Regions from separate parts of the Homo sapiens genome. Here regions 2 and 3 are each reported to be linked to region 1. Evidence: microRNA targets listed by miRTarBase, many of them from high-throughput screens and not tested one by one. Region 1 holds a microRNA gene; each other region holds the end of a gene's coding sequence.
What was found. Region 1 holds the annotated microRNA hsa-miR-515-5p (UUCUCCAAAAGAAAGCACUUUCUG, at 1,993-2,016, opposite strand). A microRNA usually pairs through its seed, bases 2 to 8, with sites in the 3' UTR of a target mRNA and lowers its output. Matches are read on the target gene's strand: a 7mer-m8 pairs with bases 2 to 8, a 7mer-A1 pairs with bases 2 to 7 and ends in A, and an 8mer does both.

Region 2: miRTarBase lists ABRAXAS2 as a target of hsa-miR-515-5p. Seed matches in the 3' UTR shown: 7mer-A1 at 1,119-1,125.
Region 3: the mRNA of NKX2-4 is a reported target of hsa-miR-515-5p. Seed matches in the 3' UTR shown: 7mer-A1 at 686-692.

What each region holds. Positions count from the first base shown.
Region 1 is chr19:53,677,774-53,681,031 of GRCh38, reverse strand. MIR515-1 (microRNA 515-1) reads right to left here and starts at 2,029; the gene lies at 1,947-2,029. It overlaps MIR519E (microRNA 519e), which reads right to left and starts at 1,092; the gene lies at 1,009-1,092. The region is part of intron 2 of LOC107985342 (a long non-coding RNA gene); the gene reads right to left. RefSeq lists an enhancer at 2,837-3,258.
Region 2 is chr10:124,834,634-124,837,856 of GRCh38, forward strand. ABRAXAS2 (abraxas 2, BRISC complex subunit) reads left to right here. Exons shown (of 9, transcript NM_032182.4): 9 at 1-2,034. The coding sequence ends at 338. Among named protein-coding and RNA genes, the nearest start is that of ABRAXAS2, 34 kb to the left of the region's middle.
Region 3 is chr20:21,393,071-21,396,328 of GRCh38, reverse strand. It overlaps NKX2-4 (NK2 homeobox 4), which reads left to right. Exons shown (of 2, transcript NM_033176.2): 2 at 1-964. The coding sequence ends at 418. Among named protein-coding and RNA genes, the nearest start is that of NKX2-4, 2.8 kb to the left of the region's middle.

The DNA.
Region 1 (3,258 bases):
CAAGAGTATTCTCCGTGTGTAGAACAGGGTTTGGTGTACATATGACTACATTATATACATGATAAGACTATATGATTAAATATACATCATATATTGTTGAGACCCTGTCTATGAAAAAAAAAAAAAAGAATATACTGTTTGCTCACATTAAAAATAACTCCTCACCGGGTGCGGTGGCTCATGCCTGTAATCCCAGCAGTTTGGGAGGCCGAGGCAGGTGGATTAGTTGAGGTCAGGAGTTTGAGACCAGCCGGACCAACATGGCAAAACCCCGATTCTACCAAAAGGACAAAAATTAGCCGGGGTGGCGGCATGCACCTGAAATCCCAGCTACTCAGGAGGCTGAGGCAGGAGAATCGCTTGAACCCGGAAGGCGTAGGTTGCAGTGAGCCGAGATCATGCCACTGCACTCCAGCCTGGGCGACAAGAATGAGACTCCATCTCAAACAAACAAACAAACAAACAAACAAAATTCCTACACACAAGTGCTTGCTTTGGCAGCACAAAAAAATACAAATAATAATTAAAAAAAAAAAAAAAAACACCCTGCAGTCCGAGCAGGGTGGCTCATGCCTGTAATCCCACCACTTTGGAAAGCAGAGGCGGGCAGATCACCTGAGGTCAGGAGTTCAAGACTAACCTGGCCAATGTGGTGAAACTCCATCTCTGCTAAAAATACAAAAATTAGCCAGGCGTGGTGGCACGTGCCTATAATACCAGCTACTTGGGAGGCCGAGGTTGCAGTGAGCAGAGAATGTGTCACTGCCTGCCCGCCTGGCCCACATAGTGAGACTCTGTCTCAAGAACAAAAACAACAAAAAAAGTAGGGGGGACCAACTAGCCTAAGAGGTCTAGGTTGGAAGCGCCACCGCACTCCTGCCCGGGCAACAGAAACCCTGTGTTGCAAAAAAACTAAACAAAAACAGAACCCCAACATCATGCAAGTCTGATGATAAGCACGCTCTGCAAATGCGTTACCAAGATCAGCATCAACTTCAACGTGGTTTTTCTCAAACAGTAACACTCTAAAAGGAGGCACTTTGTTTTCTTTCAAACAGAAAGTGCTCCCTTTTGGAGAATGACTGCATGAGATCTTCTCGCTCCAAAACTCTGGGTTTTTGTTGGAATTTTCCTTACCAGGTTAAAATGGACACAAAAATAAAGATGCATTCATTGTCCCTGTTTGCATGTTTTCTGGAATCCAGAACATAAACCCCTAAAAGGACCATCTCCAGTTCCTTGCTTCAAAGGCTCAGCAGGTTAGCCTTGTTCACGAAGGGGCAACCCTCCTGAGTATTGTCTCCAAAGAGAAAAAGCAAAGCCTACCACACATACCTTATATTTAACCAAGAGAATTGGGCTGGATTTCTAGAGAACAGCAATGGATTTTGAGCCATGTGTTCACTTGAGTTCCAGCACAGGGACACACAGTCCCGATGGGAGCAACCAAAATGGAATCTAAGATGATATTTAAGAATATACGTTGTGGGCCAGGCACAGTGGCTCATGCCTGTAATCCCAGCACTTTGCGAGGCCGAGGCAGGTGGATCACCTAAGGTCAGGAGTTCAAGACTAATCTGGCCATCATGATGAAACTCCGTCTCTGCTAAAAATACAAAAATTAGCCAGGCGTGGTGGCATGTGCCTGTAATACCAGCTACTCGGGAGGCAGAGGTTGCAGTGAGCAGAGAACATACCACTGCACTCCAGCCTGGGCCACAGAGAGAGACTGTCTCAAGAGAAAAAAAAGGGGGAGGGGGTGGGGGCAGGGACCAACTGAGCCCAAGAGGTCTAGGTTGGAAGTGTCACCGCACTCCAGCCTGGGCAAGAGACCCTGTGTTGCAAAAAAACTAAACAAAAACAGAACCCCAACATCATGCAAGTCTGATGATAAGCACGCTCTGCAAATGTGTTACCAAGATCAGCATCAACTTCAACGTGGTTTTTCTCAAACAGTAACGCTCCAAAAGAAGGCACTCTGCTTTCAGACAACAGAAAGTGCTTTCTTTTGGAGAATGACTGCATGAGATCTTCTCACTCCAAAACTCTGGGTTTTTTGTTGGAATTTACCTTACCAGATTAAAATGAACACAAAAATAAAGATGCATTCATTGGCCAGGCGCGGTGGCTCACGCCTGGAATCCCAACACTTTGGGAGGCTGGTCAAGAGACCACGACCATCCTGGCCAACATGGTGAAACTCCGTCTCTACTAAAAATACAACCATTTGCCGCCTGTGGTGGCATGTACCTGTAGTCCCAGCTACTCGGGAGGCTGAGGCAGGGGAATTACTTGAACCAGGAGGCAGAAGTTGCAGTGAGCCGAGATCGTGCCACTGCACTCCAGACTGGCAAGAGTAAGACTCCATCTCAAAAAAAAATAAAAATAAAAATAAAAAAGGTGCATTCATTGCCCCTGTTTGCATGTTTTATGGAATCCAGAACATAAACCCCTGAAAGGACCATCTCCAGTTCCTTGCTTCAAAGGCTTAGCAGGTTAGCCTTGTTCATCAAGGGGCAATCCTCCTGAGTTTTGTCCCCAAAGAGAAAAAGCAATGCCTACCACACATACCTTATCTTTAACCAAGAGAATTGGGCTGGATTTCTAAGGATGTTGAGCCAGTGTTCACTTGAGTTCCAGCACAGAAACACACAGTCCTGATGGGAACATCCAAAATGGAATCTAAGATAATGTTTAAGAATATACATTGTTGTACACACAAATACCCTCCAGGACAGACCACAGGCTAGGCCGTAAAAGCTCCTCAGTAAGATTTGACAGAGCTGGGGGGAAAAAAAGAATGTACATTGTCACACACACGAACATTCTTCAGGATAGACCACAGGCTAGGCTGTAAAACCTCAATAATTTTTTTTCTTGGAGACTAAGTTAGGAAAAACAAATGCCCACACCTAAACAACCAATCATTTCTAGTTCAAGTACATCTCAAGTATACTGTTGACCTGAAATAGAAAGTTAACCGGGTTTCCCTGCTCTGGGAAGCCCCCTTTGGTAATTCAGTTAAGGGTCTCCTTTGGAAGGTAATGGGTAGGAACATGGAGATGTCAGCCAAGGGAAGTGACTCTCAGGGATTTCTATGGATTATGCAGATGCCCTGCCAGATCCCAAACTTCCCCAAAAGATCCTAAGTCCAGGCAGGAAGGACCACTGGGGTCCAGAAACCAAATGAAGTGGCCCTGGGCAGGAGTCTCTGTTGTCAGATTCCATGACTAAGACAGCCAGGGAGCAGAGTGAAAA
Region 2 (3,223 bases), not on the chromosome of region 1:
CTCCTCCCCCTTACTCTGATTTTCACCCAAACAATCAAGAAAGTACTTTGAGCCACTCTCGCATGGAAAGGAGTGTCTTTATGCCTCGACCTCAAGCTGTGGGCTCTTCCAATTATGCTTCCACCAGTGCCGGACTGAAGTATCCTGGAAGTGGGGCTGACCTTCCTCCTCCCCAAAGAGCAGCTGGAGACAGTGGTGAGGATTCAGACGACAGTGATTATGAAAATTTGATTGACCCTACAGAGCCTTCTAATAGTGAATACTCACATTCAAAGGATTCTCGACCCATGGCACATCCCGACGAGGACCCCAGGAACACTCAGACCTCCCAGATTTAACTAAACAAAAGAAACTCTCCACCTAGCACTGTTTTTCTTCATTGCTTACTGAGAGGGTTTTTGAGAACTTAATCTGGGGGGAGAACTGCTTTCTCAGATACCTTAACTCCCGAGAAGAGAGTCCTTGTGCACAGAACTTGTGGGAGCCTCCATCCGCTGCTCTTTACCTTTGGATACAGTGTGCAAGTTTCATGACAGAATCATTAAGATAATCAAATTGTCCTAATTCTGGTGCGATTCATGGATATACTGGTAAATTTAGGCAAAGTGAAACTTATCAGCGTAGTTTCTGTTCTTTAAAATAAATTGGAAATTAGAGACTAAGCACAATTAGTCTATAAATGTTCTATAAATCAAAAACTTACCTCTTGCACTATCATGCCTTGAAATTTACTTTTTCAAAGGGAAACAAGTTTAGCAGCAGCCTTCAAAGAACTTCTTTCTATGATGAGCCAAATTCATCTTTGCCAGAAAAGAAATTTTGATAATTCCAAGAAGCCTGATTAGAACAAATCAGATATACCTTCTCTTGTCTGCATGACTTTGTGAGATAAAAGAGAGGGCTTCCAACTTTTTTCTACTAGCTTGATATGTATTATCACTTAAAATGGTTGCCTTTAAAAAAAAAAAGTAGAGATACTAATTACCAGTAAGTAATCATCCAAATAAATACGTCATAAAATAAATTAATTATTTTTTCTTTGATGGATTACAGTGACTACTGTGTTGCACTGGCACATTTATGGTCTCTGTTCTGGAATCTTGGAGGACACACAGCAGTGGAGAACAGAAGGAGTGAGTTTTATAATGAACAGATTCCAGACACGGTAGGTTTAGCTGAGTTCATACAGAGGAGATATAACTCATTTAGATCTTCTGACAAATCCTAGTGTTAGTTTTATCTGTGGAGGAAAGACATTTAATAATAAACTGTTTGGGAATCTTGGTGAATAAAGATTCATTTTCAAGCTGAATAACCATACTTATTTTATTTTAAGTTGCCATTTGGGGAATAATTGCAGTATGTGTAGAGACTCTCTTGGGATGCACTTATATTTTTATTTAATGACTACTTGTTTTCTAGTTTTGCCCACAACGTCTGAAACCACTAAGACATTCAGGAGCATGTTGAGCTTCTGGTTTGGAAACAGCAAGACCCACCATTTATGACAAGGACAGCCATGAGGTTAATACTTGGAGTTTAACTGCCTTCCCTTTGAACTAGTTAAAATCTGTAAGAATAAGGAAGTTGTTGAAGGCTTAAAATCTGGGTTCTGAAAAAGTAGTTTCAGTTTATAGGATACACATTTACTCACTGAGCTCCAGTTCCAATACTAAATTAGACAGTATCATATAGACGGAAAATGAAATGCTAGAACTGCCGTTCTTTGGATCGCCACTCTATGGGGGTCTGTCTTTTAACTACTCTCCTGGTTATGTTGGCCTTACACCACTGCCATTTGATTTAAAACGCTGCAGACCACTTTATCTGCAAATGTGTTCCAGTTGTTATCAGCTACCTACTACGCAGCTTCAGCGCCAGTGTGAATTTATTTTTTTTTAAGTGCCATTACCGTCTCCTCTGTTCAGATTTTGACATTCAGGAAAATATTTTTATTTTGATGCCATACTGAAATCTACAATGTATATCTGACAAAGCAGTTAAATGTGACAATAAAAAACTTATTTAATCATGGTACCATTGTTTTAATGTCTGTCTCAGCACCGGACAAGGCCTTGCCTCAGTGTACTCATTCTGGCAATTCATCATGGACTGAAAAGAGCTTTTTAAAGGGCATTAAAACTCATCTTCATACAAAGTTTTTGTCAGGCTGGTTTCAGGAGACATCCAGGAACACAACTTGCTAAAATGTTTCTGTGATTTTCAGGAGTTTCTGTTTCCAAAATATTTCTGTTGATTTCATGTTACCTACAGAACTAAGTATCAATTGTGTATAAAATTGAATCTTGGAGAGGTCCCCAAAAGGCATCTTCCACAGAGGAACTGATCTTGTTTAAAGTGACTCCTCAGCCTGGATTCCCTAACAGTAGAGATACTGTAGAACTTGCTGCCTGAGAGCATCTTAGGAATTGTGGGATCACTTTAGAACAAGGGTCAGCTGGCTAACAGGTGTATTCTGGATTCTGAGGGAGCCATTCCCGCTGAGTGATGTCTCTCTTCCAAAATGCAAGGGGAGAGTGTTTTCAGCAGGGTTTTAACGTGTGAATTACAGCCTTTTAGGATCCTACTCAACATCTCTAAGAATTTGGAGAAAAGGAGACTGGATTCTTTTTACTTACTTCAAAGCCTGGAAATGCCTGATTACATGTTGTAATTGGTTTTTCTGGAGTAAAATCAAAGCAGAAATCTCATACCCAAATATTCAGGATACGTATTTTTTTAATTGCAGACACAGTGGGGCATTGACCATAACTGCTTTAACAAAAATATTTAAATTGTCTTATAAGCCTATGTTTTAAGGAGATAAAAATAATCTGGGATGATGTAAAATAAGAATACAGTGGAACTAACTAATGGTTATTAACTGTGTTCTGGGTCTGACTTGCCTTGGCTGTAGGTTTCATTTCAGTTACTGAAAGATCTTCCTTTTTTCATTAGGATCTGCTTCATCCTTTCCCATAGCAAACCTGAATTCCACCAGACAGGCAGGAAGCCTGAAGGCAAATGGATTCGTAAATGTGGTGCCAATAAATAATGGAAAATGTTTACTTTTCAACTTTATGACAAATAGATTTTGGAAAAGTTCTGGGATTTAGATCAGCTGTCTTACTTTTATACAGCGATTTTTGTAATGTCCTAAATAAGGCGAGTCAGGACATAGAGTACCTCCAAACTGGGTTACTCTGGGGTTCTTCTGATCCCT
Region 3 (3,258 bases), not on the chromosome of region 1:
GCCCGAGCGCGAGCACCTGGCCAGCATGATCCACCTGACGCCCACGCAGGTCAAGATCTGGTTCCAGAACCACCGGTACAAGATGAAACGGCAGGCCAAGGACAAGGCGGCGCAGCAGCTGCAGCAGGAGGGCGGCCTGGGCCCGCCGCCGCCTCCGCCGCCGTCCCCGCGCCGCGTGGCGGTGCCTGTGCTGGTCAAGGACGGCAAGCCGTGCCAGAACGGCGCCAGCACGCCCACCCCCGGCCAGGCCGGTCCGCAGCCGCCGGCCCCGACGCCAGCACCTGAGCTGGAGGAGCTGTCGCCCAGCCCACCCGCGCTGCACGGCCCGGGGGGCGGCCTGGCGGCCCTGGACGCGGCCGCCGGGGAGTACAGCGGCGGCGTCCTGGGCGCCAACCTGCTCTATGGCAGGACGTGGTGACAGCGAGGGCGCCCCGGGGCTAGGTCCTGGTGCACCCGAAGGGTCTGCAAGAAACTGCTAGAACGGATGGGGGAGGCATGCGAAAACCGACTCGCGCGTGTAAACTGCGATTCAAAACGAACCGGTCTCAGAGAGGAGCAGGCTGTGAACCTCTTGCTGGGGGCGGGGGACAGCGACAGCCCGGAAACCGAGTAGTGTAACATTATGCCACGAGGCTTTGAGGTGGTGATTTTCTCCTCCTAGAAGTTCTTAAATGACGCGAAAAGGTGGAGAAGTTCACACGGCATTCTTAACTACAGCTCTCAAAGTTGGAAACTTTGTTGGCGTTTGTAACTATAAAAATCAACCCAGCTTTAACAATCAGTCCTTTTTGAAGTGGAATTTATCTTGGGAGATTAATTTTCGAAGGGCCCCCTAAGTGCAATTTCATTAATGTTTGATTGAAAGTAAATTGAAGTGTAGCTCAAGGTGGATCATACACATAGCAACATTATTGCAGAGGAATTATTGCCATTTAGGTAATAGAGCAATGGAATCAAAATAAAATACTGATTATATGGATTGATGGAGCTTTTTAAATTTAATGCTGATTTCAAAATGTTTTGATGATTATTTGGCAAGTGAGTGTTTGTATGTTACGCTAAAAGAGGATTTTCCCCCCTAAGATGCAGCTCACCATAAGAAAGGTTGTATACTATTTGTATATGAAATCTGGTCTCCCAACATCAACTGAGAAAATAAATAACCCTATCCTTCTGTAAACATGGTATTTACTCTCTTTGAGGTATTTTCTTGTCTGAATTTGAATACCTTGATAAAGTACTAGAACAAACAAGTAAAATTTCTAAAATTGACATCAATTAATCTATATTCAAAGCATGACAAGAAGAAGAAAGGTGATTTATTGAATTGTAATCAAGATATAAGGAATAAGTAACTACAATATAATTTTTCCACCATATTTAGAACTTAGGAGTTGCACTGGTTTTGTTGGTGTTTTATTGTACAAATAATGTATTTACTCTTTAATATGCCGATTTATATTTCCTATGTTTCTAATGGATATTTAAATATAACTTAAAAGAAACAAGTTCTTTTTTCTAAAAGTCAAGTGGTCATTTCTTTTTCATTAAGTTTATACATGGCTTGATGTGTTTTTAAAATACTAATTGTCATGATGTGACAACACAGCTCAGTTTACTCATAAATGACTGGTAGTGGACTAAAAATACTAAAAGCTGACGAATTTGTGCTTATAAATAATTAATGAAAATTAAAGAAATAACATGGATAAAGCATGATTTGCAAATGATCAAAACAAATAGTTACCGGAGACCCTAAACCTCTTCTACATTTGAGATTTTAGAATTACAGCTTGGGGCTGAAACATTGTGTTTCACTTCATTGTTAGAACATTTTTCTGAATGTGCAACTTGAATTCATAAGAAGGTGTTTTAGAAGTTAAACTTGCACTTTTTCTAGACTCTTGTATAGTAATTTTTTAAAACTCCAGTTTCTTTCACAGAGGGAGAAAAAACACTAAAGAAGCAAGGGAATCACCCTTTATCAAGGGGCCGTAAAAGAATTTTTAGAAAATGAGATCTAATTTTTAAAACATTTTATGTAAGAACAAATAATCTGAGCAGACAAATTTGTAAGAAAACGCTACAGTACACCCACAGGAAATTCTCTCAACTTGGGGTGTTTTTGGCATATTAATGGAAATGACTTTAGAAATGTTAACTAAGCTAGCAAATCTATTATTGATGTGCCAAATTTCAAAATGTTTGTTTATATTAGTTTGATTTCCTCACAATAGTACCATAATTCTGAAATTTTACTTCTAGAAAACGTTCTAAAAGCCCACATGGTTGGCAGTGTTTTTTGTTACAGTCCAATACCTACAAAAACAATAATAGCTTATAGTCCAAGGGCTCCGGGTAACATATTTAAAGAAAATGAGTCTTCATGAACAGTTTATTTCTGGAACAAAATCCTTTAGACTGAAGAAGTGCACTTTCTTTAAGAAATATGTCACATTAAGAAGAAACAACTTTTATATACAATATTTTCTGGAAGTGTATTTTGTGTGGGCATATCTTATTCCTTTCAGCATTCCTTTAAAGAGTAAAAAACCCCAAGCCAGAAATAATTGCTGCAAAGGGCTTAACATTCTATACCCAGAGACTGACTGACTGTATGTGTGCATATCCTGAAATTAGGGAAAGGTTTGATTCTTGAAGCTTAAAATAGAAATGTTTTTACCATAGAATCCCACCTTCTGATTAATGCAAAACGAGCTGTTTTCTTCTTTTTGCAATTAGTGCTTTGCAGATCTTTTATAAAAATACAAATGGCCAGACTAGGTGAAACTCATTAACTGAAGAGGAGGATAAGTGTCTCCACAACTGAGAGGGAGGACTGGCGCAGGGTCTGAGTGGAACAAAGGCCCCTCAAAGTTTGGCAGAGGCCACAGCAAACCTGTTTCAAAAATGCTTACTCAGCAGATGTGACCTTTTCCTAAATGTTTTTGGGTTTTACAACAATCTAACTTACCTTTTCCAATTGAGGCACGGAAACCAAAAGCCAGAGTCAAAGTTGCAGAGAGGAACGGAGGGATTGCAGGTACTTTTCTGTAATCTGTGTTGGGATGTATATTGAAGTGCTGTGTGTGCGAGTGTGTGCAGTTTTGAAGGACACAAGAAGGGTGTTTTGTATATGGAAGGATGGGGGTGTAACCCAGTTGTCTTCTATTTAAGTCTTTGCCTAGAACTAAAACCTAATGGTCAGAACAAGTAGTCAGACTTCTATCAACACAGATGTTGTGTTCAATCTCCATT